Homo sapiens: one gene and its partners. The protein of the gene in region 3 purifies or fractionates together with the protein of the main gene of each other region. This does not show direct contact. Each region holds a gene or a part of one and is shown on either strand. Other genes may lie near its edges. The genes, in order: CTCF, LARP7, RPL26L1 and TRA2A.

Region 1 (4,185 bases), on a different chromosome or scaffold from region 3:
GAGACAGAGTTTCACTCTTGTGGCCCAGGCTGGAGTGCAGTGGCGGATCTCAGCTCACCGCAACCTCCGCCTCCCAGGTTCAAGTGATTCTTCTGCCTCAGCCTCCCGAGTAGCTGGGATTACAGGTATGCGCCACCACGCCCAGCTAATTTTATATTTTTAGTAGAGTCAGGGTTTCTCCATGTTGGACAGGCTGGTCTCAAACTCCCAACCTCAGGTGATACACCCACCTCAGCCTCCCAAAGTACTGGGATTACAGGTGTGAGCCACCACGCCCAGCTGCCAGTTTCTTATTTCTTGTAGAGATAAGGTCTCACTATGTTACCCAAGCTGGTCTTGAACTCCTGAACATGAGTGATCCTCCAACCTCAGCCTCCCAACGTGCTGGGATTACAAGTGTGAACCACCGTGCCCAGCCTTAAATTGATTTTTCTTAATAATTGGCTGAGCATGCTGGCTCACACCTGTAATCCCAGCACTTTGGGAGGCCGAAGCAGGCAGATTGCCTGAGGTCAGGAGTTTGAGACCAGCCTGGCCAACATGGCGAAACCCCATCTCTACAAAAAATACAAAGATTATCTGGATTGGCTGGGCACGTTGGCTCATGCCTGTAATCCCAGCACATTGGGAGGCCGAGGCAGGTGGATCACCTGAGGTCAGGAATTCAAGACCAGCCTGACCAATATGGTGAAACCCCATCTCTACTAAAAATACAAAAATCAGCCAGGTGTGGTGGCGTATGCCTGTAGTCACAGCTACTCAGGAGGCTGAGACAGGAGAATTAAACCCAGGTTGCAGAGGTTGCAGTGAGCTGAGATCGTGCCGCTGCATTCCAGCCTGGGCGACAGAGTGAGACTCTGTCTCAAAAAAAAAAAAAGAAGGAAAAAAAAATTACCTGGGCATGGTGGTGCGTGCCTGTAGTCCCGGCCACTCAGGAGGCTGAGCCACGAGAATTGCTTGAATCTGGGAGGCAGAGATTGCAGTGAGCCGAGATCGCGCCACTGCACTCCAGCCTGGGCAATAGAGTGAGACTGTCTCAAAAAAAAAAAAAGAAAGAAAGTGTATATATATATATATATATATTTATAAAACAAGACTTCAAATAATATATAATTGTTTTCTTTCATCTTCCACCACCCTTCTCCTTGCCCCACCACCTGTGCTTCCTGATTTCATGAAAAGAAAATGCTGAACCAGATCTGGACGACAATGAGGATGAGGAGGAGCCTGCCGTAGAAATTGAACCTGAGCCAGAGCCTCAGCCTGTGACCCCAGCCCCACCACCCGCCAAGAAGCGGAGAGGACGACCCCCTGGCAGAACCAACCAGCCCAAACAGAACCAGCGTAAGTTGTTCATCTCTGCTCTGGAGGCTGGCGTCTTCTCCGAGCATGTGGGGGAGCCAGATGGGTCCTTGTTCTTTGGGGATGTGGGAACTAAGCCATGAGAACAAGTTAAGGGCATGTCGAGAACAAACTCTCAGGAAATGGCTTTTTAGGAGTTTTTACTGAGGAACATCTGAGGAAGTCTTTAGAGGCCTGTTACATTTCAAGAAGAAGTCCAGAGTAGAAGGGTACTTGTGTTCTGCAAGATGGGTACTGTTAATGTGGGCGGGTTTTGAAAAACAACCAAAGTCACAGTCAGCTGGCAGAATGGATGCGGTAATGAATATAAAAGAGCCAAATCGTAAAGGTTGGAGAGGGAAAGCAGTTTCTGCACTGAGATTGCCCCTTCTAAGAAACTCAGGGTCAGGCGGTGGCTCATGCCTGTGATCCCAGCACTTTGGGGGGCCAAGGCGGGAGGATCACCTGAGGTCAGTAGTTCCATACCAGCCTGGTCAACATGGTGAAACCCCATCTCTGCTAAAAATACAAAAATTAGCCAGGCGTAGGGGTGGGCACCTGTAGTCCCATCTACTCAGGAGGCTGAGGCAGGAGAATTGCTTTAACCCGGGGGGCAGAGGTTGCAGTGAGCTGAGATCATGCCCGTGCACTCCAGCCTGGTCATAGAGCAAGACTCCGTCTCAAAAAATAAAATAAAAAATAAATTGACTGTCTCTGGACCGCTATCTAATAAGGCTGTCCTGCATTGCTGACATCCCGTTCGCTGTCAGTCTAAAAGACCCTTGTGATTCTTGGGGCTTTAATGGACCATTTGTTCTGTCTGTGCTCTTCTTTGCCAGCAACAGCTATCATTCAGGTTGAAGACCAGAATACAGGTGCAATTGAGAACATTATAGTTGAAGTAAAAAAAGAGCCAGATGCTGAGCCCGCAGAGGGAGAGGAAGAGGAGGCCCAGCCAGCTGCCACAGATGCCCCCAACGGAGACCTCACGCCCGAGATGATCCTCAGCATGATGGACCGGTGATGGCGGAGCCTTGTGCGTCGCCAGGACTTCTCTGGGCTGTGTTTAAACGGCCCGCATCTTAATTTTTCTCCCTTCTTTCTTTTTTTGGCTTTGGGAAAAGCATCATTTTACCAAACATACCGAGAACGAAAACTTCAAGGATGATGTTAGAAAAAAATGTGATTTAACTAGAACTTGCTGTCTGATGTTAGCAAATCATGGAATGTTCTGAGTCCCTGAGGGTTTACTGTGAAGTGCTGAGGACAGTGTTGACAACTAACTCGTTTTCCTAGATGGAAACGGAGACATTGACCCCTCCCTCCATGTGGTAAACCACTCCAGAATGGCCACCAGGCTTCCCAGAGTTCTATGGTCTTCTTCCCAAGAGAGTTTTTAATTGTAAATGCATACTTGGGAAGGACTTAGAGTTTTAAACTGTTTTTTGCTTTTGCTTTTCCCTGACTCCCTTTGCTTGGAGTCAGCTGCACACCAGTAGTATGGCATGCTACGATCAGGTTCTGTCCTGAAAGCTTTGCCTCTTTCTTGGCAAAGTTTCTGGTATGGTCAAGCTTGTAAATAACTTTTTTTACATTTTAATCTTTTCCATTAATTAAGAGGTTGAAAAGAAGTGCAGTGTAAGAAAACCCAGCATTTTAATTACTTGCAAATTAAGTTACCACAGACTCTGTAGTGTGTAAATGTTGACAAGGAATTGGATCACAATCATGTAGCAGAATGGCACCCAGACCACTGCCCACCAGTGACGGACATGCACGTGGCAGATCATGATTTCCAGCCCACGGAGCCAGCATTTGAACCTTGTATAATTAACTTTCAGTTATGATTTCCCATCGACATTTTCTTTGCCCTGTTTGTAGCTGATTGTTGTGTTTTATAAATCTTCTGTTAAGGCAGAAGGGTGATTATGAGTGGTTCACAGCAGCCCTTATAAGCTGGGCCAGAAAATTTCACTAGGTCAGTAATTTAAACCTTGGATCTTCAAAAAATAAAATAATGTGAAGCAAAACCAACTAAAAAGTGATTCTTGCACATGAACTGTCACATGTTTAAAAATGTGTTTTTTAGAGAGCCTCAGTCTTACTGATTTCAAACACTTTTTTCTTCTGTGTATTGCTTTTAAGAGAGCCATCAGTTAGCTATCAGACTCTAGGTTGATGCATTTTGTACTTAGCTGTACTGTGTGATATTTTTCATTATTTTAGGACGCCAACATGAGACCTGTAATAAAATATGTAATGGGGTTGAAAGCTGGGGAGGAGGATCTACTGCTGTACAGCTAATAAATCATAACGGATTAACAAGTGCTCCAAAGACTCCATCTTGCGTGATTCCTGCCTGCTTGAGGGAGGCTGGGGGGCTGCATACATGGTTCCAGGCTGTGCAGGCTGCTGCCTTTCACAGGCAACCTCTGTTCCCTGGGATGGTACTTTCTCTAGCAGATGGGACGATATGATCTTGGCGGGTGACTGGATATTGAGCGCATCCTGCTGTAACTGTTTTTTTGTTTTGTTTTGTTTTGTTTTGTTTTGTTTGAGATGGAGTCTCGCTCTGTTGCCCAGGCTGGAGTGCAGTGGCGCAATCTCAGCTCACTGCAACCTCCACCTCCCAGGTTCACGCCATTCTCCTGCCTCAACCTCCCGAGTAGCTGGGACTACAGGCGCCTGCCACCATGCCTGGCCAATTTTTTGTATTTTTAGTAGAGACTGGGTTTCACTGTGTTAGCCAGGATGGTCTCGATCTCCTGACCTTGTAATCCGCCTGCCTAGGCCTCCCAAAGTGCTGGGATTACAGGCGTGAGCCACCACACCCGGCCCCTGCTG
Region 2 (6,991 bases), on a different chromosome or scaffold from region 3:
TTCCATTATTTCTTCTGAAGTTATAAACCAGCTGGGTCCAGAAAATAGGAAATATTCAACTATTTATACCACCTAAAATTAAAAATGACATAAAATTTCAACCCTGATTTTTAAAAAATATCAAATATAATTTTTCTCAATAAACTCCCAACCACAGACATGAATCAAGGAGTTCCAAGATTACCTAACTACCAAGGGAAACAGAGGTGTAATTATCTATCACTGAGGACACAGTAAAAGTGATACCATGCTGTGAAACAAGCATTTTTTCATAAGTAAAGAAAAAACTAAGTAAAATACATAAATTAACTTGTAGTCTGCATTTTTCCAGATGCATAATATGTATCAGAAAACACGAATTTGTCCTCCACATGTTTGGTTCCCTATAGCGCAAATTCAATTTTTAAAGTTTTCTGAATTGCTACGGTTACCACAAGATGGCCCCCTTGTGTTTTAAATTTTTCCTTTCACTTCTTAGCATCAATATACCACAGTATCTAGGACCAATTACATAGTACCTCTACAAGGAAAAATCTTTCCAACACTGTTGCAACAGTTACTGTAGTTGTTATGCTATTGGATAAAACTGTTTTTGTGGGCAAATTTGGAAATCTAAAATCACTGATGGTGATCCCTGAAGAAGTAAACAGAAATGCCAAAGAAACATACTTTCTTTTTTTTCCCCTAAGGTGGTTCTCAAGATGTGACCCCTGGACCAACAGTATCATCTGGGAACTAGTAAGAAATGACCTATTAAGTCAGAAAGTCTGGGGTTGGGGGCCCAGCAGTCTGTGTTTTAAGAAGCCCTCCAAGTGATGCTGATGGACACTCAAGTTTGAGAATACAGATCTAAAAGACCTAGAAGGATTCAATAAAGCTGTAATTGTGATTTCAGTTCCTCTTTTAGACATATAAAATATGCCACTTACATATTATTTATAAGTTACATATATTTATTCAGTACTTACTATTGTGCCAGATATTATGCTAAAGTATTTAAATGGAAACTCTATCCTCCATCTGAAGGAATTTCAGTATGGCGGGGTGATAAACAGTAATTTTAATAAAATAAGGCAGGAATAAGCACAGCAGGGGCACCCAGCTTGGTGTGGATCATCAAACAAGGCTTCTTCAAGGAAGTAAAGTCTAAGCTGTAAGCTGAAATAACCCTTAGTCAAGGGAAGGCCAGTGAAGGTCTTCCCAAACAAGAATTGCAGGCCTGTGATCCCAGCACTTTGGGAGGCCGAGACAGGTGGATCACCTGAGGTCAGGAGTTCGAGACCAGCCTGGCCAACATGGTGAAACCCCTGTCTCTACTAAAAATACAAAAATTAGCCAGGTGTGGTGGTGCGTGCCTATAATCCCAGCTACTTGGGAGGCTGAGGCAGGAGAATCACTTGAACCCAGGAGGCAGAGGCTGCAGTGAGCCGAGATCACGCCACTGCACTCCAGCCTGGGCGACAAGAGCAAAACTGTCTCAAAAAAAAAAAATAAAAGGGCGAGGCGGGGGCGGTGAAGTGCAAGAAAGTGACTGGCATCTTCCCTTGACTAATCAAGGTGATCTGGAGAAAGAATAGGTAAGGGGTATGCAAATGAGATATGCATACTTGCTTCGTGACACAGGTCACAGGACAGAAACCAAACCTACAGAAGGACTGCCTTTCAGAAATATAACTCCTGGCCGGGTGTGGTGACTCACGCCTGTAATCCCAGCACTCTGGGAGGCCATGGCGGGTGGATCATGAGGTCAGGCGCTCGAGACCAGCCTGACCAACATGGTGAAACCCCGTCTCTACTAAAAATACAAAAATTAGCTGGGCATGGTGGCACAGGCCTGTAGTCCCAGCTACTCAGGAGGCTGAGGCAGGAGAATTGCTTGAACCCGGGAGGCGGAGGTTGCAGTGAGCAGAGATCACGCCACTGCACTCCAGCCTGGGCGACAGAGCGAGACTCCATCTCAAAAAAAAAAAAAAAAAAGAAATACAACTTCCACATCCTATCTCCCTCCCCTCCGGCGTACATAAATTGCTGATGCCTAAGAATGCCAAGAAGATAAAAGAGAGATCGAGAAAAACACTCCTGGGCTAGATATGCTGTATACATAGATGAGAATACATGGTACAGACACAGTGCTGGGCATGTGGCAATTATTAATATCAGATCTGTTTAATAGCTACCATTTATTCAGTGCTACCATATGCTAGAAACTGTTAAATGCTTTATTTGGAGGTTTTGTTTCTGTTGGCTTTTTAACTTTTCTTTTTCTTTTACAGAGACAGGGTCTCACTCTGTCACCTAGGCTGGAGTGCAGTGTTGCAATCATAGCTCGCTGTGGCCTCAAACTCCTGGGCTCAAGCAATCCTTCCAGCCTCCCAAAGTGCTATATTATAAACATTATATACATTATATTGTTAATTATATACATTATAATTATTATGTAATTATATAATATATAACTATATTACTGTATTATGTAATATACAATTATATGATTATCGTGTGTAATTATATATATTTATTGATTACATACTATGTATCAGGCAGGAATTGGACGAGATACTTTACATACAGTATTTATCAGTCTCATAATCCTGAAGAATAAGCATTATTACAATTTACAGATTAGGAACCCAGTATTTACTAGTTTAGGATAACTTATATGCTATTTCACAATTGCAAGATAAATTCTCCATTATTTTCCTAAATTGAGATATTACTTCTGGAATGTACAGTTTAAAAAGAACTAAGAAGACTGAAACTCTTAAAGGATGGTTAAATTCGATTATAGGAGAAAACCTAAAAAAAAAAAGCTAACTGGATCTTTTAAAATTTAGAAGAGCTCTAATACTTATTCATTGAAAGTCAACACCCTTTCTTATCTTAGTATTAATCAGAAAAAATTATTTTAGACAACAGCATCATATATATTTAAGTGAGATGCAAAGAGTTTTTTCCAAGTGTTCATCTGTCCACGTCTACCAGACAATTCACCTGTTGACCGACTTCTAATAGGTGAAAGATTAATCTCCAAATAAGTTTTTAAAGACCCCAGATGCTCTGTGATAATTATATACATACATACATACACACAGATATACGTACATACACACATATACATACATATACATTGTGCTACTATATGTACGGACGCAATATATATACATAAAACTCGGTGTTCTCAGTAAAGTATGAGCCATTATTCATTTAAATACTAGATATTTTTCCTTTTTTTTTAAACAAGGAGTATTTTTTGAACCTAAACCTGAACCTCTAAATAGTTCGGATAACAAAGTTTTGGAATCATGAACTCAACATTGTTAACAAACCATCCAGTCCAAATAAACAAAGGAAACCCACATCTCATTTGCCAAGATTCTAAGAACCATAATCCTGTCACCAAATGACAATGGAGACTTGATCCTTTCTCAGTCCTAAATACAAACAGCAAAGCCCTCTTTGGTCCTCATACCTACTCGAAATTGCAAAGCAAGGCCTGGGAAAAACGGTGAAGAGGCACCACTTACTACAAGCAGTCCGAGTAGCTGTGACTGCGACCACCCCAATCCTGGTTCCAAACAGCATCCTTCCCGGTTCTCTTCTTAAGGAGCAGAGTCTTTCGTCCCTTCGCCCCAAATCGCTCAAGTCATTCCTAGGAAATCCCGAGAAACACTTCACCTCACCTGTCAAATTGCACAAAATCCACTTTCGAATTTCTCCCGCGAAACAACGTGACGTCATTAACGCGGGACCTCACCAGATGAGGACCCAAAACTTGGCCCGCCCACCTCCGCCTAAGCCAAAAACCGCCGCTTTCAAATCGCCAATCAAATTCTTCCTTGGCTTCGAGTCTCTCAGCCGGCCGCGCTCTCCGATGCCCAGCCCTCCTGGAACCACCTCGCCTGTGACGTAGGTGGAGCGCGCACTGCCTCCGGGCCCGTCTTTCTCAATTGGGACCGGAAAACGTTGTCGCTCATCCTATGACGCGAAAGTAACCGAGACTATCAGGATCCGGAGACGGAAATGTCCGAAGGCCGCAGTACTTGACCCTGTATTTTGGGAGTCGAACGGAGTAAGTTACAAGCGGCCTATAGGGTCGCACAGCTTGGGCGAAGTCTAATTAACTCTCCGTCCTTTTTCTTGCGGTCCACTCTATCATCTATCGTCCTTCTTACCCCGCCCCCCCGTCCTGCACACCCATCAGTTCCTTGGCCTAGTTATCTATGCGCACGCGCAAAAGTCTTCGGCAGCACTTGTAGTTCCCGTTTTCAGACAGTAAGGGCGCATAGGGGCCCGGCGTGGGGAGGTTTGGGGCGCGCCCGGCCTATGACGGCGTCCTTGCGGAAGTACGGGTGCCGAGAGAAGCAGTAGTCAATAAAGAGAGTGCCGTATTTCGCAGATTGGAGCTGAGCTGTGGCTGCCAGAAGATAGCGAACGTGAGGATTTATATTCTAAAATTATCATCTTCTTTTGCAGGACTCTGCCATCGTCCTCAAAGAGTAAAAAATCCAGTTACGGAAGGGAACTAACACTTGCTAGATATGGTGTGCAGAGTGCGTTTGCAAAGAAACTTAAGAGAAAACAAATGATAGGACACAGGGTGGTGGAAGATCTCAAAGAGTAAGATGCCATTTAACCTGGGCCTTGAAAATTTAATAAGGAAATTTAGACGAGAAGATTCAGACAAAGCAGAACACACAGGCCACTACGTGTTGAGGGACTTGAGTTGTAAGCAGTGACCAGAACAATGATTCTTAACCTGTTGTGGCACACTTCTTTTGAAAACTTAATTATATGGATTAGCTTCTCAGGAAAACGTGCATGTACCTATTAAAACATTTTGCGAGGCTGGGCACGGTGGCTCACGCCTGTAATCCCAGCACTTTGGGAGGCCGACGCGGGAGGATCACTTGAGGTCAGGAGTTCGAGACCAGCCTGGCCAATATGGCAAAATCTCGTCTCTACTAAAAACACAAAAATTAGCGGGGAGTGGTGGTGCACACCTGTAGTCCCAGCTACTCAAGAGGCTTGGTTGGGAGAATCGCTTGAACTCGGGAAGCAGAGATTACAGTGAGCCGGGATCGCGCCACTGCACTGCAGCCTGGGCCACTGAGAGAGGCTGCGTCTCCAAACAAACATTTTTCATATAATTTCCTCAGGAGAAATTACGAAATACTTTTAAATAGCAAACACACACAAATGACTTGGTGTCTTGTCTGACTCACTCTTCCAAGTTATCTATGTCTTTCGTGGTCTTTGAACTATTTTTCAACCCTGTAACTCGCTACAGCAACATGGAAATTAGGTTTGTCCAGTAAAGATGCAATTAATTATTGTCCTGAGCAGTATTTATTAATATTCATTTCAACGTTCCTGATTGCCTGTGTACCTGCTTTTTAAATTCTCCTTTGAACTGGTTTTTAGCACTTAACTGGTTCCCTTATTTACAGTCAAGCACCACATACCGACAGACCGCATGTATGACAGTGGTCCCATAAGATTATAGGTGAGTAATAGGCAATAGTACCTAGGTTTGTGTGAATACATCATAGAATAACTACATACTCAATGATGTACTTACTCACCTGACTGTGCATTTCTCAGAATGTGTCCTTGTCGTTAAGCAACCCATGACTGTGCTTAAATCTTTACCGTGTATTCATTTTATATTTGTACAAGAGTCTTGATTTTACCTTATCTTTAAAATGTATCATTTACAATTTAATGGAGCCCACTAGAATTCTTGTCCAGCCAAAGTTGCATGGACTTCAGATTAAGAATTCCTGAGTCAGAACATAGAGTCCGTGGTGATAAATTGCGGGAAATTCTACCAAAAGGTAGACAATGTGGGATCAAACATACCTGGGACAACTTACTTAGCTAGCTTTGGCCAAGTCACTTAAACCTTTTTGAGTTTTTGTGTTAAGATGGAAGAAACTGCTACCTAGTGGGATTGTGAGGATTTACAAAAGTGTATATAAAGTTACTGGTATTGTTACCCAATAACTTTTATTCTTCATTTAAAGCCAGTTAAATGTTACTTTTTTTTTTTTTTTTTTTGAGACGGAGTCTTGCCCTGCCGCCCAGGTTGGAGTGCAGTGGCACGATCTCGGCTCGCTGCAAGCTCCGCCTCCCGGATTCACACCTTTCTCCTGCCTCAGCCTCCCAAGTAGCTGAGACTACAGGCGCCTGCCACCATGCCCGGCTAATTTTTTTCTTTTCTTTTTTCTTTTTTTGTATTTTTAGTAGAGACGTGGTCTCACCTTGTTAGCCAGGATGGTCTCCATCTCCTGACCTCGTGATCCGCCCGCCTTGGCCTCCCAAAGTGCTGGGATTACAAGCGTGAGCCACCGCGCCTGGCCAAGTGTTACTTTTTTTTTTTAAAACAGTGTTTTCATAAACTGCATATTATGTTACGGGAAGGTGCTAAGGAATTTCTAATGTTGCAAGTTTTGACAGAAGCATCACAAAACCAGGTCTGTGTTTTAGATGGGTTATACATAGGCTCCTGTTGAGAATGGGTGACTTACAGAACAGTTTATAAACTATTGGCATATTCTAGTGACAGTTGTAGCAGTAGTTGTAGAAAACACTGGATGGAGATGAGAGCCATTTCAAAAGTCAAACTGATAGGATTTAACAAGAGATTGGATAGAATAATTGGATAGAATTATTGATAATTGGATAATTATCAATAATTTATAATTATAGATTATCAATTATAGAATTATAATTATCAATTATAGAATAATTGATAATTATAGCCTACGTTTGTGTTTGTTCGTTTTTGAGATGGAGACTGAATCTGTCTCCCAGACTGGAGTGCAGTGGTACGATCTCGAATCACTGCAACCTCTGCCTCCTGGGTTCAAGCGATTCTCCTGCCTCAGCCTCCCGAGTAGCTGGCATTACAGGCATGGGCCACCACACCCAGATAATTTTGTTATTTTTAGTAGAGACTGGGTTTCACTTTGTTGGCCAGGCTGGTCTTGAA
Region 3 (7,974 bases):
GTGGGGGCAGGGGCGGCGGGGGGGAAGTGGGGGGAGTGGTGGAGGCTGCAGTGAACCAAGATCTAGCCGCTGCACTCCAGCCTGGGTGACAGAGTGAAACTCTGTCTCAAAAAAGAGAGAAAGAGAGAGGGAGGGAGGGAGAGAGGAAGAGGGAAGGTGGGTGTGGAGAGGGAGAGAGACAGAGAACGGAACAACTGAAGATTTTTGGTTGGTTTATGTAAGGAAAATGGAGGGGAACACCGATACAGGTTTCTCTGTAAGGTAGAGCCTTAGCCCAGGGTCATTGTCGAATGTGTTTTACGTTGGCATACAACATTTAAGGGATGGATGCCATTTTTATTATTTCTCCTTTCAATGAACTTTTCCAATTGTCTAACCAGATGTGGATTACAGTGGTTTCATATAAGAGGATTTCTAAATCAGGATTACAGAGCAAAACCCTCCAGGGGTGCGTGACAGGTTGGGAGCTGTGGTGGGTCCAGGCAGAAATGGCTTCCCTGGGAAGTTGCGGAAGAGGCGTCTCTGGAGACGTGCTTCGTGAGGAGAGAAGCTGAAGTGTTGCAAACAACACTGGTTGGGGTGGGTGAAACCTGGGAAGAGGGGGTGAAACCTGGGAAGAAATGGGGTGTGGCACTAGAGTTCATAAATAGTAGCTGTGGTTAGTTTTTTTTTTTTTTTTTTTTTTTTGAGACGGAGTCATTGCCCAGGCTGGAGTGCAATGGCGCGATATCGGCTCACTGCAACATCTACCTCCCAGATTCAAGCAGTTCTCCTGTTTCAGCCTCCTGAGTAGCTGAGATTACAGGCGCCCACCACCATGCCCAGCTAATTTTTGTATTTTTAGGAGAAACAGGGTTTCACCATATTGGTCAGGCTGGTCTCGAACTCCTGACCTCAGGTGATCCACCTGCCTCAGCCTCCCAAAGTGCTGGGATTACAGGCGTGAGCCACTGCGCCCAGCCTGTGGTTAGTTTTTATTACTATATGTTACAAATAATTTTTAAATTCTTGCCGGAAACAATGTGGGAGGCCACTGGAGGTCTCAATCCCTTCTTAAGAAACTGGTCCTTTATTCCAGAAGGTTCATTAGCTGCTGCGGCAGTTAGATGCAGTGGTCCAGGAACGTGAGTGGGGATGTGTGTGGACAAGAATACTCACTGGAGACCCTTTTTTCTTGCCCTAGCAGTTGTTTCCTGTCAGTTATGGAGTGATGAGGTCACGCACTTCATTCTGGCCAGTCATTAATATGATTTGGCATTCTCTGCATGCCAGGCAAGAGTGACTGCTCTTCAGGCCAGATCTTCCTTCGAGATGGATGTTATCTCCTTTTTAGGAAGGAGGAAACAGAGAGACCTCGTAACTTGGCATGGCCACACAGTGAGTCACACAGTTAGTAAAGATGGAATTCATACCCAGGTCTGCCTGACTCTGGGATTACGAAGAATTACATGGTTCCACCTCAGTCCCAAGGTCATCTTTGCTGTGCCAAAAGGGAAAACTGGAAATAGGGGTGGTCAGAGCAGGAGGTGCTTTTTTTGGTTTTGTTTTTCCTTTAAAACAACCTGCAGAGAAAATCTAAATTAAACATTCGCAGGGACAGCGTTCTTACAATTTTTTAAATCTTCAAAATGTAATTTTAATTACACAAATAACACAGGCTCATAAGCCCACTGGAGGAAAATTATCAAATACTAAAAAAAGTAAAAGGGGAAAAACGAAAGTCACCCGTAATCCCACTAATCAGAGATGATCATTTAATGATAACATTTTAGTGATGCCTTTTGATAAGCAAAATGGGATCATACTGTTCATATTATTGTATAGCTTAGCCCTCACTTAACAGACATCTTCCTAGATTAATAAATACGGATCGCATTATTATCTTTATGGGCTGCAAGATAAATAATAACCATATTGAGCATCTAATGGTAGATTATGTCCATCCTTTGTTCCCATCTCACTCAGAGCCTCAGTTTTCTCACCTGTAAAAGGGACAATTCATACTGTTATTTAACGGACTGAAATGAGGTAATGCTTGTAAACCTGTTAGCACAATGCCTGACAGTAAATGCTCAGCCCATTAAGAAGAGCCATTATTATCCATCTAATAAATAAATAAATTCCAACATTTATTAAGTTCTTCCTCTGTGCCAGGTATTGTGCTAAGGGTTCATTTAATCCTGACACCAGGCCGGGTGTGGTGGCTCACATCTGTAATCCCAGCACTTTGGGAGGCTGAGGCAGGTGGATTGCTTGAGGTCATGAGTTCAAGACCAGCCTAACCAACATGGTGAAACCCTGTCTCTACTAAAAATACAAAAATTAGCCAGGCGTGGTGGCATACGCCTGTAGTCCCAGCTACTCAGGAGGCTGAGGCAGGAGAATCACTTGAACCCGGGAGGTGGAGGTTGCAGTGAGCCAAAACTGCACCACTGCACTCCAGCCTGGGCGACAGAGCGAGACTCTATCTCGAAAAAAAAAAAAAATCCTGACACCAAACCAATGAGGTAAGTACTATCATTATTCCCATTTTTCAGATGGGAATAAACTGAGTGACCAAGAGGCTGAATATCTTCTCCAAAGCCAAAGAACCAGGCAGTGGCAGAGATCCAAACCCAAGCGATTTGGGTGCCAGGGCTCAAGCACTTCCCCATGCAGCCACTGCCTCGAGAAATAAAAAGACTCACCAGACACTTCCTCTGTGCTAGGTGCTTTGAGTTCCTGCGCATGTTTCCAGGGGTGGGCATGAGACAAGACAGCCAGTCTCACTACATTGTTAGAATGACAGCCTCCAGCTCTTGTCATCCAGGATATCATTGTGCCTGTTTTAATTTTACTGAACCACACAGCATGTTAAAAACAAAACAAAACAAAGCAAAAAGCCTTCCCTGCTCTGCTTGATCATGGATACTCCTTGATGATCTTGGGTTCTCAAGATCTGTCTTTACATGGCTTTCCTTCACCAGTGAGGCTCTGAACTTCTTGGGAGCACTCCTCCCCAGATCTCTTTAATCAAGACCTGTACCTGGCTCCATGTAGGTACCAAATAAATTGATGAGCAAATGAATGAATGTATGAGTAAATAAGTGGGTGAATGACAATAAATGGATATGTGATAGAGAAATGAGTGAATAAACAGAACCAGTGAGTGAGTGAGTGAATGAATGAGTGAATGAATGAATGAACTCCTTGGGGCAGGGCATGGGTTTGACTAACACCTAAGGACTATTCTAAGAAGAACCTCTGACCTTTACTGTGTGTGCGCCGTTATGCCAGCGTCTGCTCCTGGGTTGCCGATAGGTAATGACTTCCTTTCTTAGGACTGCCCCCCAACCTCCTTATTCTTGGAGCCTGGGCACACGCACAGCTGGGTGGCCCTTCAGCTGATACTGCCTTAACTGCTTTAACTCTGCCTGCTGTGCTGTCCAGGCTTCTGCAAATAGCCCAGGTGTGGCCATCCTCCAGAGGCCTCCAACATTAACTGTGAAGGGCCCGGAATAAAACCTAGTATTAGTAGGCCAGGCGCAGTGGCTCACGCCTGTAATCCCAGTACTTTGGGAGGCCGAGGCGGGAGAATCACCTGAGGTCGGGAGTTCAAGACCAGCCTGACCAACATGGAGAAACCCCGTCTCTACTAAAAATACAAAATTAGCCGGGCGTGGTGGCGCATACCTGTAATCCCAGATACTGGGGAGGCTGAGGCAGGAGAATCGCTTGAACTTGGGAGGCGGAGGTTGCGGTGAGCCGAGATGGTGCCACTGCACTGCAGCCCAGGGAACAAGAGCGAAACTCTATCTCAAAAAAAAAAAAAAAAAAAATCTAGTATTAGTAAACGCAGGTGTTTAACAATGTCACCACTACATGTCAGGGAACACTGATAAACTAAGAGAGAGCACGGGACCTGCCTGGGTGTGGCTGCTGTACTTGCAAGACATCTTCCCTCTCTGAGTTTCAGCATGCCGGCATTTGGCACTAAGTTGTCGTTCAACATATATGGAATGAATGAACGAAAGGGAGAGTTGGAGTTAATAACACCTTGCATAGAATAAACCCCGTCGGTTCTTAACCCGAAGAGAGTCGAGACCCAGAGCCCTTTTCCTTCCCTGCCGCCACGGTGCCCACGGAGGGGGCGTGGTTGATCTCCCTCACAGCTCCGTCGGGACCAGAGACCCGGGGACCTTTTACACCCAGGGTCCGCGCAAAGTGTCGGCCTAGCCAGTGGTTGGGTGGCGCCCGGGCCTCCAGGCAGTCTTCCAGGGGTCGGCGAACGAAACGCGGAGCTCGGGAGCGACCCGGCGGGGCCAGGCACGGGCAGAAGGGCCAAGAGGGCCACAGGTGGGCGCGGAGCGGCCGGAGTGGGCGGGGACTGGATGAGAGGGGCGGGGTCTAGGAGAGAGGGGCGGGGCGGCGGCCACAAACCCGCAGGCACGCCGCCGGCCGCCGTTTAGTCCCAGAGATAGAAAAAAGTAGAGGTAGGAGGGCGCGGCGGCTCACGCCTGTAATCCCAGCACTTTGGAAGGCCGAGGCGGGCGGATCACGAGGTCAGGAAATCGAGACCATCCTGGCTAACAGGGTGAAACCCCGTCTCTACTAAAAATACAAAAAATTAGCCGGGCGTGGTGGGGGGCGCCTGTAGTCCCAGCTACTCGGGAGGCTGAGGCAGGAGAATGGCGTGAACCCGGGAGGCGGAGCTTGCAGTGAGCCGAGCTCGCGCCACTGCACTCCAGTCTGGGCGACAGAGCGAGACTCCGTCTCAAAAAAAAAAAAAAGAACACCAGTAAGCCTCTACCGCAGGCCCTACACAAGCAGGCCCTTGTACTCACTGGCATCGCCCTCCCGGGGCCGCCAGGAATGAGGCACTGAGATCCCACCCCAAGCCGCTGGGGGCGCCATTCGACTTCGCTCCTACGGAAATGGGGCTTCGATGTCTTTCTGCGCTTGCGCGGCACGGAAACTCACTTCCGGCCCTGCGCACTCAGGGTCTGAGGCAGCTAGTAGCCGGGTGAGTGGAGGCTGGAGTTTTCTCGGACAGTGAACTCTACCGCCCCGTGAGACCCTGCCCTATGTGTCGCGGGAACACATGTCACCCCACAGCTCTCTTTGAGTGACCTCCCGACCACCCATTCCTGCCTAACCCTAGCATTCCTTCCTCAGCCTCAAGGTCCCAGTGCTACCCTCTCCCCCACGACCCCTTTAGACGGGCATGCGACCTCCACACACGCCTCACTTTATGTGATAGTCAGACTAGTCGCATCTCTCTGTCCTCCCTCAGTTGCCTTTTCAGAGGCTACCTCCCCTGTAGAGCCTTTGTTGGGGGATGAGGAGTGTCTTGGGTCGAGAACAGGCCCCTGTAACCCACTGAGCGCCCCTTCATTCCGTCTCTCTCCGCCCTTTGTAGAGGGTCACCATGAAGTTCAATCCCTTCGTTACCTCGGACCGCAGTAAAAACCGCAAACGTCACTTCAATGCCCCCTCACACGTGCGCAGGAAGATCATGTCATCCCCGCTCTCCAAGGAGCTGCGGCAGAAGTACAATGTCCGCTCCATGCCCATCCGCAAGGACGACGAGGTCCAGGTACGTCTCCCTCCGGCGCTAGTGGCGCTCGGACACCGTTGCCTAAGAACGTCATGCGTGGAGCAGTCACAGACTCACATGCCTCAGGACTCTGGAAAGTAGTGTGACCCTTCAGATGTGTTAGGCCAGAGATAGGGTTCAGAGCCACCAGAGAGTGCCTGCGTTGCTTTAGAGCATTTAATTATTTAATAGTAATAGTAAAATTTAATAAAACAGTATGTCAACCAAGCAAAAACCTGCTTTTTTGTTTGTTTTGTAGAGATAGGGTCTTGCTATGTTGCCCAGGCTGGTCTCTGAACTCCTGGCCTCAAGTGATCCTCCCACCTCAGCCTCCCAAAGCACTGGGATTACAAGTGTGAGCCACCGTGCCCCACCAAAAATACTTTTGATTTAACCTTCTGGCTGCTAGTTTGCCAAGTGTTGTTGCCCAGGGTGGCTTGTTGAACCAGACTGTAGGGGAAGGTGCTGCAGTGAGAGTAGTGTTTTAGTGTATTTGGGTGTAGTGGGATTGATGGACAGAGATTTGTGGGAGCTGGCCATGTGATAGCATTGGATTTGGCAGGAGAACTGGTAAAGATGCAGCGAGTCACTCTTTCATAATTTCTAAAAGACTGGCCCATGTGAGAACGTACAAGCCCTCTGTTCTCTGTGATTGGAGCTTAGAATGCATGAGAGGAGGGAAGGGAGTTGGATATGAGTGAAATAAGCAGGGGCTAGATTCATTCCTCAAAGGAATATTTATGGAGCACTTACCAGAGATTGTTCTAGGACAAGATTGACGAGGCCCTTGTTCTCATGGAGATCACGTTTTAGAGCAGGGTTTCCTAGCCTCAGCTCTATTGATATGTTGGACTGGATAATTGTTGTGGGGGGTGGGGGGTGGGGGCTGTCCTGTGCATTGTAGAATGTTTAGCAGCGTCCCTGGCCTCTCCCCACTAGATGCCAGTGGCACTCCCTCCCTTCACAGTTGTGACAAGCAAAAATATTTCCAGATATTGCCAAATGCTCCCTGGGGGGCAAAATCAACTCTTCCCTCACTCAGTTAAGAGCTATTGTCTTAGAGAATGAAATGACATAAGGTGATGAGGCTTGGTGTATCATCTGAGACACTGGGACTCTTTGAAGGTTTGGGGATATGTTAAGGAGGAAAAAATGTGGAGTTAAGCCGGAAGTGTGACAGGAAGAGTGGAAAGAGTAGTTCAGAGGTATGATCAGCAGTTTCAACCCCCTCTCTCCTGGATCCTTCCCATCAGACATGTTCTAGAATGGGGGAATTGCAAATACTTATAGGGGATAGGTAGGGATAGAAAATGGCAAACTGGAAAGCTCAAGCCTCACATATAAGATATAATCATCTACCTTTAGCCCATTGATGCCTGGGGGAAATGCAGGCCCATTGTTAGATTCTTGGATTTTCAAAGAGAGCTGGAAAATTTGGATTCACTTCCCTAGCCCACATTTCCTTCCAGCTACTACACTTTGTTCTCTATTCATAACCAACCTCCTCAAGAGAGCTGTCTACACTTCCTCATCTCCCATTCACTCTTGGATTCTCTTCAGTCTATTCCCTGTCCCCACTACATTATAGAACCTACTTTGACGTAGATCACTAATAATCCCTTCGTGACTGAATCCAGTGGACACATCTAGCATCTCTTTCTGCTCTGTGTTCTCTACGTAGGTAAAGAATAGGTAATAATCCGTTCTTAGAGCTTTAAATGTCTGCTGTGTGCTAACAACTCCCTCTTTTATATCCCAGTCCAGACCACTTTAGACAACCTGTATATCTGACTACCTATAACACAGACCTATAGATCTGACTACCTACTGAACATCTCTATTTAGGTAGCCCATTGACATTTCAAGCTTCTTAAGAGTACTCTTGATCCTAACACTCTCACTGCCTCCAGAATCCAACTCTACTCCCATCTTCCACATCTCCAGTAAGTGCCATTTATATCTCCCCAGCTGCATATGCCCCTAAACCTTTGTTATCTTTAACAACGCTCCTTAACCCCCTCTTGTAATCTACCATCAAGGCTTGTTGATTCTACCTCCAAAGTAAGTCTTGAACCTATTTCCTGTCCAGTTCAAGGCAGCATTGCAGTTCCCTCTTTTACCTTTGTCCATTTTCCACAGAGTGGTATTATTTGCAAATCAGGTCCTATTTAAAACCTTTGGCAGGCTGGGCATGATGGCTCACGCCTGTAATCCTAGCAGTTTGGGAGGCCCAGGCGGGTGGATCCCCTGAGCTCAGGAGTTTGAGACCAGCCTGGGAAACATGGTGAAACTCCATCTCTACTAAAAATACAAAAAATTAGCCAGGCGTGGTGGTGCACACCTGTAATCCCAGCTACTCGGGAGGCTGAAGCATGACAATCGCTTGAACCCGGGAGGCG
Region 4 (7,033 bases), on a different chromosome or scaffold from region 3:
GTTTTAGTTTTGGTTTTGGTTTAGTTTTTGCTAACTAGCAGTCTAGGTTTCAACCAGGCAGCCGGGCTCTAAAGTTCTTAGAACATGTTTGCATGCTGTACTATGCTTCTCCCACAGGATACTAACTTAAACTGTGGTGGAGCATGTCATTATTTAATGTTTTGAAATCTGTAAATTTATTTCTAAAATCTGGATTGTGGGAACACTGAAAGAATATCCTCGCTAAAGAATGAAAATGGGCCAGGCATATTGGCTCACGCTTGTAATCCCGACTACTTGGGAGGCTGAGATGGGAGGATTCCCTGAGCCCAAGGAGGCCAAGGCTGCAGTGAGCCATGATCAGGCCAGTAAACTCCAGCTTGGGCAAGAGAGTGAGGCCCTGTCTCAGAAAAAAAAAAGAAAGAAAATGGAGGAGAGGAGGTCTAAATCAACAATTACAGATGAAGTCAGATTAAGTACAAATCTGTAAGGGATGTAAAGCATTTGAATTAACTAGAAAGATGGTATTAAACTGAGGATACTTTTTTTTTATAAGTGAGACGGAGTTTCACTCTTATAAAAAGTAAAGGTTGTTCAAAGAGATTTTCCTCCCCATCTAATTAGAAATAGATAATAATTTCTCTTAGAAGCAAAATTTATTCAAAGAGCTGTGCTAACATTCTTAAATATCTGCTAGGCCGGGTGGGGTGGATCACCTGAGGTTGGGAGTTGGAGACCAGGCTGACCAACATGGAGAAACCCCATCTCTACTTAAAAATACAAAATTAGCTGGGGGTGGTGGTGCATGCCTGTAATCCCGTCTACTTGGGAGGCTGAAGCAGGAGAATGGCTGGACCTCGGGAGGTGGAGGTTGCGGTGAGCCAAGATCGCACCATTGCCCTCCAGCCTGGGCAACAAGAGTGAAACTCCGTCTCAAAAAAAAAAAAAAAAATCTACTAGCCGTAGTAAAAAAATCAATGTACTTTATGTTCTTAGCTCCCACAATTTAGCCTAAGTATTTGCCCTAACATGCTTATACTGGTCCAAACAAGCATTAGGTCATAGCCTGTTCCTCTTCCTTATTTAAAGGTGTTTTTACCTTTCTCAACATTCCACAAATTACTTCCTCCTTCCTTTGTTCTCCTCCGCCTTTGCCTCTTTTAAAAAGTTTGAAGTTACTAGCCAATCAAGACAAATCAGAATGTGAAGTCCCATTCCAGCCAATAAAAAACAGACACAACAGTAAGGTAGACACGTCAGATTATAAATGACCCTGTCTCCTTTGTTCAGTGTACTCTTGTGACAAAACTGCTGACAAGCGTACCCTTTCTACAGAAAATAAAAATGGCCTTACTAAAAAAATGTATGTTCAAGTGCTATTTCTTTACAACACCGAGAAACAAACATTTCTAACACTCTTGTCGCCTAGGCTGGAGTGCAATGGCTCGATCTTGGCTCACTGCAACCTCCACCTTCTGGATTCAAGCGATTCTCCTGCCTCAGCCTCTGGAGTAGCTGGGATTACAGGCGCCGGCCACCATGCCCAGCTAATTTTTGTATTTTTAGTAGAGATGGGGTTTCACCATGTTGGCCAGGCTGGTCTCGAACTCCTAACCTCAGGTGATCCACCCACCTCAGCCTCCCAAAATGCTGGGATTACAAGATTTTCAGGATACATTATGAACATTGCTGGGCTGGAGAGTAAGAACATTTTAATTCAGGCTATAGACAGAAAGCATATCCCAAAGAAGGCCTTGGGTGTACTGTGAATTGTAAAATATGGCTCATCTGCTCTAGTTCTCTTAAAATCTTATCTCCAAATTATTAGAAACAATATATTTATTGTGTATTAGATGAGGTGTTCTAAACAAAGTATTTCTGTGTTTCTTTGATTTTGATTTTAATTTGGAGTTTTAAATAATATTTCCATTCAATAGGCAAATCCAGATCCCAACACTTGCCTTGGAGTGTTTGGCCTCAGTTTGTACACAACAGAGAGGGATCTTCGTGAAGTATTTTCTCGATATGGACCATTGAGTGGTGTCAATGTGGTTTATGATCAGCGAACTGGGCGATCTCGAGGATTTGCTTTTGTGTATTTTGAGAGAATAGATGACTCAAAGGAGGTAAATTTGTCTTTTATATGCCTGATTATAGTACTGAATTAGTGTGAAAAGTTGATTAATAGACTTATTTCTGTAAACATTGCATCCTTTTTTCTTCCTTTTTTTCTTTTTTTTTTTTTTAAAGATAGGATCTTGCGTCCAGGCGCGGTGGCTCATGTCTGTAATCCCAGCACTTTGGGAGGCCGAGGCAGGTGGATCACGAGGTCAGGAGATCGAGACTATCCTGGCTAACACGGTGAAACCCCGTCTCTACTAAAAATACAAACAATTAGCCAGGCGTGGTGGCCGGCGCTTGTAGTCCCAGCTACTCGGGAGTCTGAGGCAGGAGAATGGCGCGAACCCGGGAGGCAGAGCTTACAGTGAGCCGAGATTGCGCCACTGTACTCCAGCCTGGGCGACACAGTGAGACTCCGTCTCAAAAAAAAAAGATAGGATCTTGCTGATTTTGCTCTGTTGCCCAGGCTGGAGTGCAGCCTCGACCTCCTGGGCTCAAGCAGTCCTCCTACCTCAGCCTCCTGAGTAGCAGACACTACAAGTGTGGGCCACCATGCCCAGATAATTTTTTGTTGTAGAGATGAGGTCTCACTATGTTGCCCAGGCTGATCTCGAACTCCTGGCCTCAAGTGATCCTCCCAGAATGCTGGGTTTACAGGCATGAGCCATCATACATGGCCTGTTGTGTCCTTTCTAATTTTGACCTGATTCAAACTCTGCCTCTCAGTGTTAACAATTGGAGTGACTACAGTTTCACTTTTTTTGGTTATGCTCTCTGCTATAGGCATATCCTAATTGAAATCTGGCTGTGTAAAGTGAGCTATATGTGTTTAAATTAATGGAAAAAGTATATGTGTAAGTGTTCTCTTTTGAATAAGCCATAATGATGCTCCAAACAGATGATTACATTAACTTTTAAAAAATAATTCTGATGTGTGGGTTTGATATGTTTAATTTTGTGTCTATAATGAGGAAGGAACTTGTTTTTCTATTCTCTAAATGTTCATTTATCAGTGTGTTCAATAATTGAAAAATAGTACATGGAAAGAATTGATAATTTTTTAGTGCTATTCTTAACTTGCCTAACACAATGAACTAATCAATGTCAATGACTTGAAATAGTGCTATTCTAACATGTTCGGTATTATAAAGGAAGTGGTAGGCTTGCTTTAAGTTTTTGCAGGGAGTCTTGCTGTGTTGCTTAGGCTGGTCTCGGAACAACTCCTGGCCTCAACTGTTCCTCCTGCCTTGGCTTCCCAAGGTGCTAGAATTACTGATGTGAACCACCATACCTGGCCTAGGCTCGCTTACTCTTTACTAAAAGTTGATAGTAATTGATTTAGAAAATTGCATTTTAAAGAATTTGAAGCTCAATACTTTTAGTTTTGTTAGACCTTCTGTCTTTTAAATTAATATATATATATTTGTATATATCTGGAAGTTTTATTAGACCTTAATAATCAGGGTGTTTTTCTTTTCTTTTCTTTTCTTTTTTTTTTTTTTTTTTTTTTTTTTTTTTTTTTTTTTTTGAGATGGAGTCTCGCTCTGTCGCCCAGGCTGGAGTGCAGTGGCGCGATCTCAGCTCACTGCAAGCTCTACCTCCCGGGTTCATGCCATTCTCCTGCCTCAGCCTCCCGAGTAGCTGGGACTACAGACGCCCGCCACCATGTCCAGCTAATTTTTTGTATTTTTAGTAGAGGCAGGGTTTCACTGTGTTAGCCAGGATGATCTCAATCTCCTGACCTCGTGATCCACCCGCCTCAGCCTCCCAAGGTGTTGGAATTACAGGTGTGAGCCACCGCGCCTGGCCAAATAAGGCTATCTTTTAAAAACAGTAAGTTCTTGGCATCTGGTGGGTAGAAGCCAGGAACACTGCTAAATAACCATACAGTACACAAGCTGGCACCCCATAACATAGAATCAGTCTCAAAATGTCAATAGTGCTAAGGTTGAGAAACCCCGGATAACTCTAACAAACTAGTACTTTAGTTTTTAAGTCATTTATGTCACAGGCAGTTTAATGCCTTAATTTGTCAGTCTTATGATTTTTTTTTTTACTGTTACGTATTTGTGATTTATATATTCCTTTTCTCAATTAAGAGATACATGTTATCAATTTAGAAATACTAGGATATCTGAGCTGAAGTAAAAGTTGCAAAATGCAAGCCAGAACAGTGTAATTTTTTTATTATTAATATTTTTTAATGTGAAACGTGTTTATCTCTTGATTCCACCTGTCCCCTTCCACTTCTGGATAAAACTAAAATGGCAGGCCGGGCACAGTGGCTCGCACCTTGTAATCCCAGCACTTCGGGAGGCTGAGGCGGGCAGATCACCTGAGGTCAGGAGTTCAAGACCAGCCTGGCCAACAGGGTGAAACCCCATCTGCTAAAATACAAAAATTAGCCGGGCATTGTGGCAAGCGCCTGTAACCCCAAGCTACTCGGGAGGCTGAGGCAGGAGAATTGCTTGAACCTAGGAGGCGGAGGTTGCAGTGAGCTAAGTTTGTGCCACTTCACTCCAGCCTGGGCAACAGAGTGAGACTCCACTTCATCTCAAAAAGAAAAGAAAAAAAAGCTTAACTGGCAACTTTAAAGACAGGAGCAGTTACTTAGTGGCAGGATTAGAAGTTCCTTTTAGTTCACTAGGTGACAATATGTTACTTAAGGAGCGGGGTGACGAGGCTTGTCAGCTAAATCACAGTTTCTCTTTTCAGTTGCCCAGGCTGAATTCTCAGCTAACACAGGCATGTTGTATGGTTTCTTCTGTATGGCTGAGACTGTCTCCAGTCTTTAGGGACAGGCAATCTGAAGTGATTTGATTTTTTTCTTTTTTTGTTGTTTGTTTGTTGTTTCTTTGTTTGTTTGGAGATGAGGTCTTGCTCTTTGCCCTGTCGCCTAGGCTGGAGTGTGGTGGCACGATCTCAGCTCACTGCAACTTCCGCCTCCCAGGCTCAAGTGATCTTCCCACCTTAGCCTCCCGAGTAGCTGGGACAACAGGTGCGCACCACCATGCCCGGCTAATTTTTGTATTTTTTGGTAGAGACGGGGTTTTGCCCCATTGCCCAGGCTAGCCTCAAACTCTGGACCTCAAGTGATTTGGCCTCCCCAAAGTGCCAGGATTACAGGCATGAGCCACTTCACTTGGCTAAAGTGATTTTTTTTTTTTGAGACGGAGTCTTGCTCTGTTGCCAGGCTGGAGGGCAGTGGCACAATCTCGGCTCACTGCAACCTCTGCCTCCCGGGTTCAAGCAATTCTGCCTCTGCCTCCCGAGTAGCTAGGACTATAGGTGCATGCCACCACACCCAGCTAATTTTTGTATTTTTAGTAGAGATGGGGTTTCACCATGTTGGCCAGGATGGTCTTGATCTCTTGATACCTCATGATCCCCCCATCTTGGCCTCCCAAAGTGCTGGGAGTACAGGTGTGAGCCATCGCGCCCAGCCTAAAGTGATTTTTAAAATCTTTTTAAAATTTGTATTCCTTTTTGACTAACTTCTCCCTGATTCTGAAAATTTCACTGAAGTTTCAAAGTTATTAGTGTGCATATGGTGAAGATAATAATATAAGCTCCTCACCCTGTTTTAGTAAGAAGTACTTAGAGATTTTGTGTGTGTTTTTTTGGGGGGTGCTTAGGATGGGGTGCAGGGAGATCAACTTAGAGAATTTTGATTTTTGGAACTTCAAATGGAAGATGTGTTAAATTTGTTGCAGCTTTGCTTTTGCAGACATTTATGTGATGTAAAGTTCTTTTTAAAAATTGGACCGGGTGTGGTGGCTCATGCCTCTAATCCCAGCACTTTGGCAAGAGGATTTACTTGAGCCCAGGAGTTTGAGACCAGCCTGGGGAAACATAGGGAGACTTGGTCTCTACAAATATATATATGTGTGTGAGAGAATAGGAAAAAAAAATTGTCCCAGAAACAAATAATACTCTCAGAGTTCTTTTCAAAGAGACCAAAGAGACAACTCTTATCTTCAAGAATTAGGCTGTGCAAGGCGGCTCATGCTATTTGGGAGGCTGAGGTGGGAAGGCCACTTGAGGCCACGAGTTAAGAGACCAGCCTGGGCAACAGATCTTGTCTCTACAAAAATAAATGCATGCAGGCCAGGCGTGGTGGCTTACGCCTGTAATCCCAGCACTTTGGGAGGCCAAGGCAGGAGGATCACAAGGTCAAGAGATCGAGACCATCCTGGCCAACATGGTGAAACCCCATCTCTACTAAAAATACAAAAAATTAGCTGGGCATGGTGGCGCATGCCTGTAGTCCCAGCTACTTGGGAGGCTGAGGCAGGAGAATCACTTGAACCTGGGAGGCAGAGGCTGCAGTGAACCGAGGTCACGCCATTGCACTCCAGCCTGTGCAACAAGAGCGAAACTTGGTCTCATAAATAAATAATAAAATGCATTCCATTGAATGGAATACTGTTTAGACCCCTTCTCTACCAAGAATTTTTGTTTTAATTAGCCGAGCATGGTGGCACAAACCTGTGGTCCTAGCTACTTAGGAGACTAAGGCTGGAGGATTGCATAAGCCAAGAAGTTTGAGGCCACAGTGAACTATGATCCACTGCCAGCCTGGGCAATGGAGTGAGACCTCCTTTTTTTTTTTTTTTTTTTTTTAATGACCTTTAGTTTATGGGACACTCTTACGGAGAAATATTTGTGGATACATAAAAATTGTGTAGTTTTTATTAGTTTATTATACTTTTATTAGTTCAGTCTCAATAAAAGGTTGAAAGGCATTACGATAAATTTGTTCTTGTCTGTTTATATCATTTCTTCTTGGCTGCTCACTGAGTCTTAATCAGTGTACTAGACTGCAAACTAAAGAATAAGATTGGGGGCAGGTTATAAAAAGAACATGTATAAAGCTTAGCAAACCCTTTTTAATGTTCTGAAGTCAGTCTTTGTAAGTGAAATCGCTGGAGAC

The links.
Region 1: the proteins of RPL26L1 (region 3) and CTCF purify together in Homo sapiens (affinity purification with mass spectrometry; 3 studies listed by BioGRID and IntAct, with this or other methods). This does not show direct contact.
Region 2: the proteins of RPL26L1 (region 3) and LARP7 purify together in Homo sapiens (affinity purification with mass spectrometry; 3 studies listed by BioGRID). This does not show direct contact.
Region 4: the proteins of RPL26L1 (region 3) and TRA2A purify together in Homo sapiens (affinity purification with mass spectrometry; 3 studies listed by BioGRID and IntAct, with this or other methods). This does not show direct contact.

The regions. Positions count from the first base shown.
Region 1 is NC_000016.10:67,635,508-67,639,692, forward strand, and holds the end of CTCF (transcriptional repressor CTCF), read left to right. Parts: intron 1-1,182; coding exon 1,183-1,344; intron 1,345-2,180; coding exon 2,181-2,365; 3' UTR 2,366-3,670; downstream 3,671-4,185.
Region 2 is NC_000004.12:112,633,171-112,640,161, forward strand, and holds the start of LARP7 (la-related protein 7), read left to right. Parts: upstream 1-3,972; 5' UTR 3,973-4,069; intron 4,070-4,331; exon of another isoform or gene 4,332-4,433; intron 4,434-4,473; exon of another isoform or gene 4,474-4,617; intron 4,618-5,447; exon of another isoform or gene 5,448-5,503; intron 5,504-6,991. Other genes in the region: 5'-3' DNA helicase ZGRF1, read right to left, coding at 1-6. UniProt on the Homo sapiens protein: RNA-binding protein that specifically binds distinct small nuclear RNA (snRNAs) and regulates their processing and function.
Region 3 is NC_000005.10:172,954,467-172,962,440, forward strand, and holds the start of RPL26L1 (ribosomal protein uL24-like), read left to right. Parts: upstream 1-4,957; 5' UTR 4,958-5,002; exon of another isoform or gene 5,003-5,161; intron 5,162-5,398; 5' UTR 5,399-5,407; coding exon 5,408-5,575; intron 5,576-7,974.
Region 4 is NC_000007.14:23,507,966-23,514,998, reverse strand, and holds part of TRA2A (transformer-2 protein homolog alpha), read left to right. Parts: intron 1-1,916; coding exon 1,917-2,105; intron 2,106-7,033. UniProt on the Homo sapiens protein: Sequence-specific RNA-binding protein which participates in the control of pre-mRNA splicing.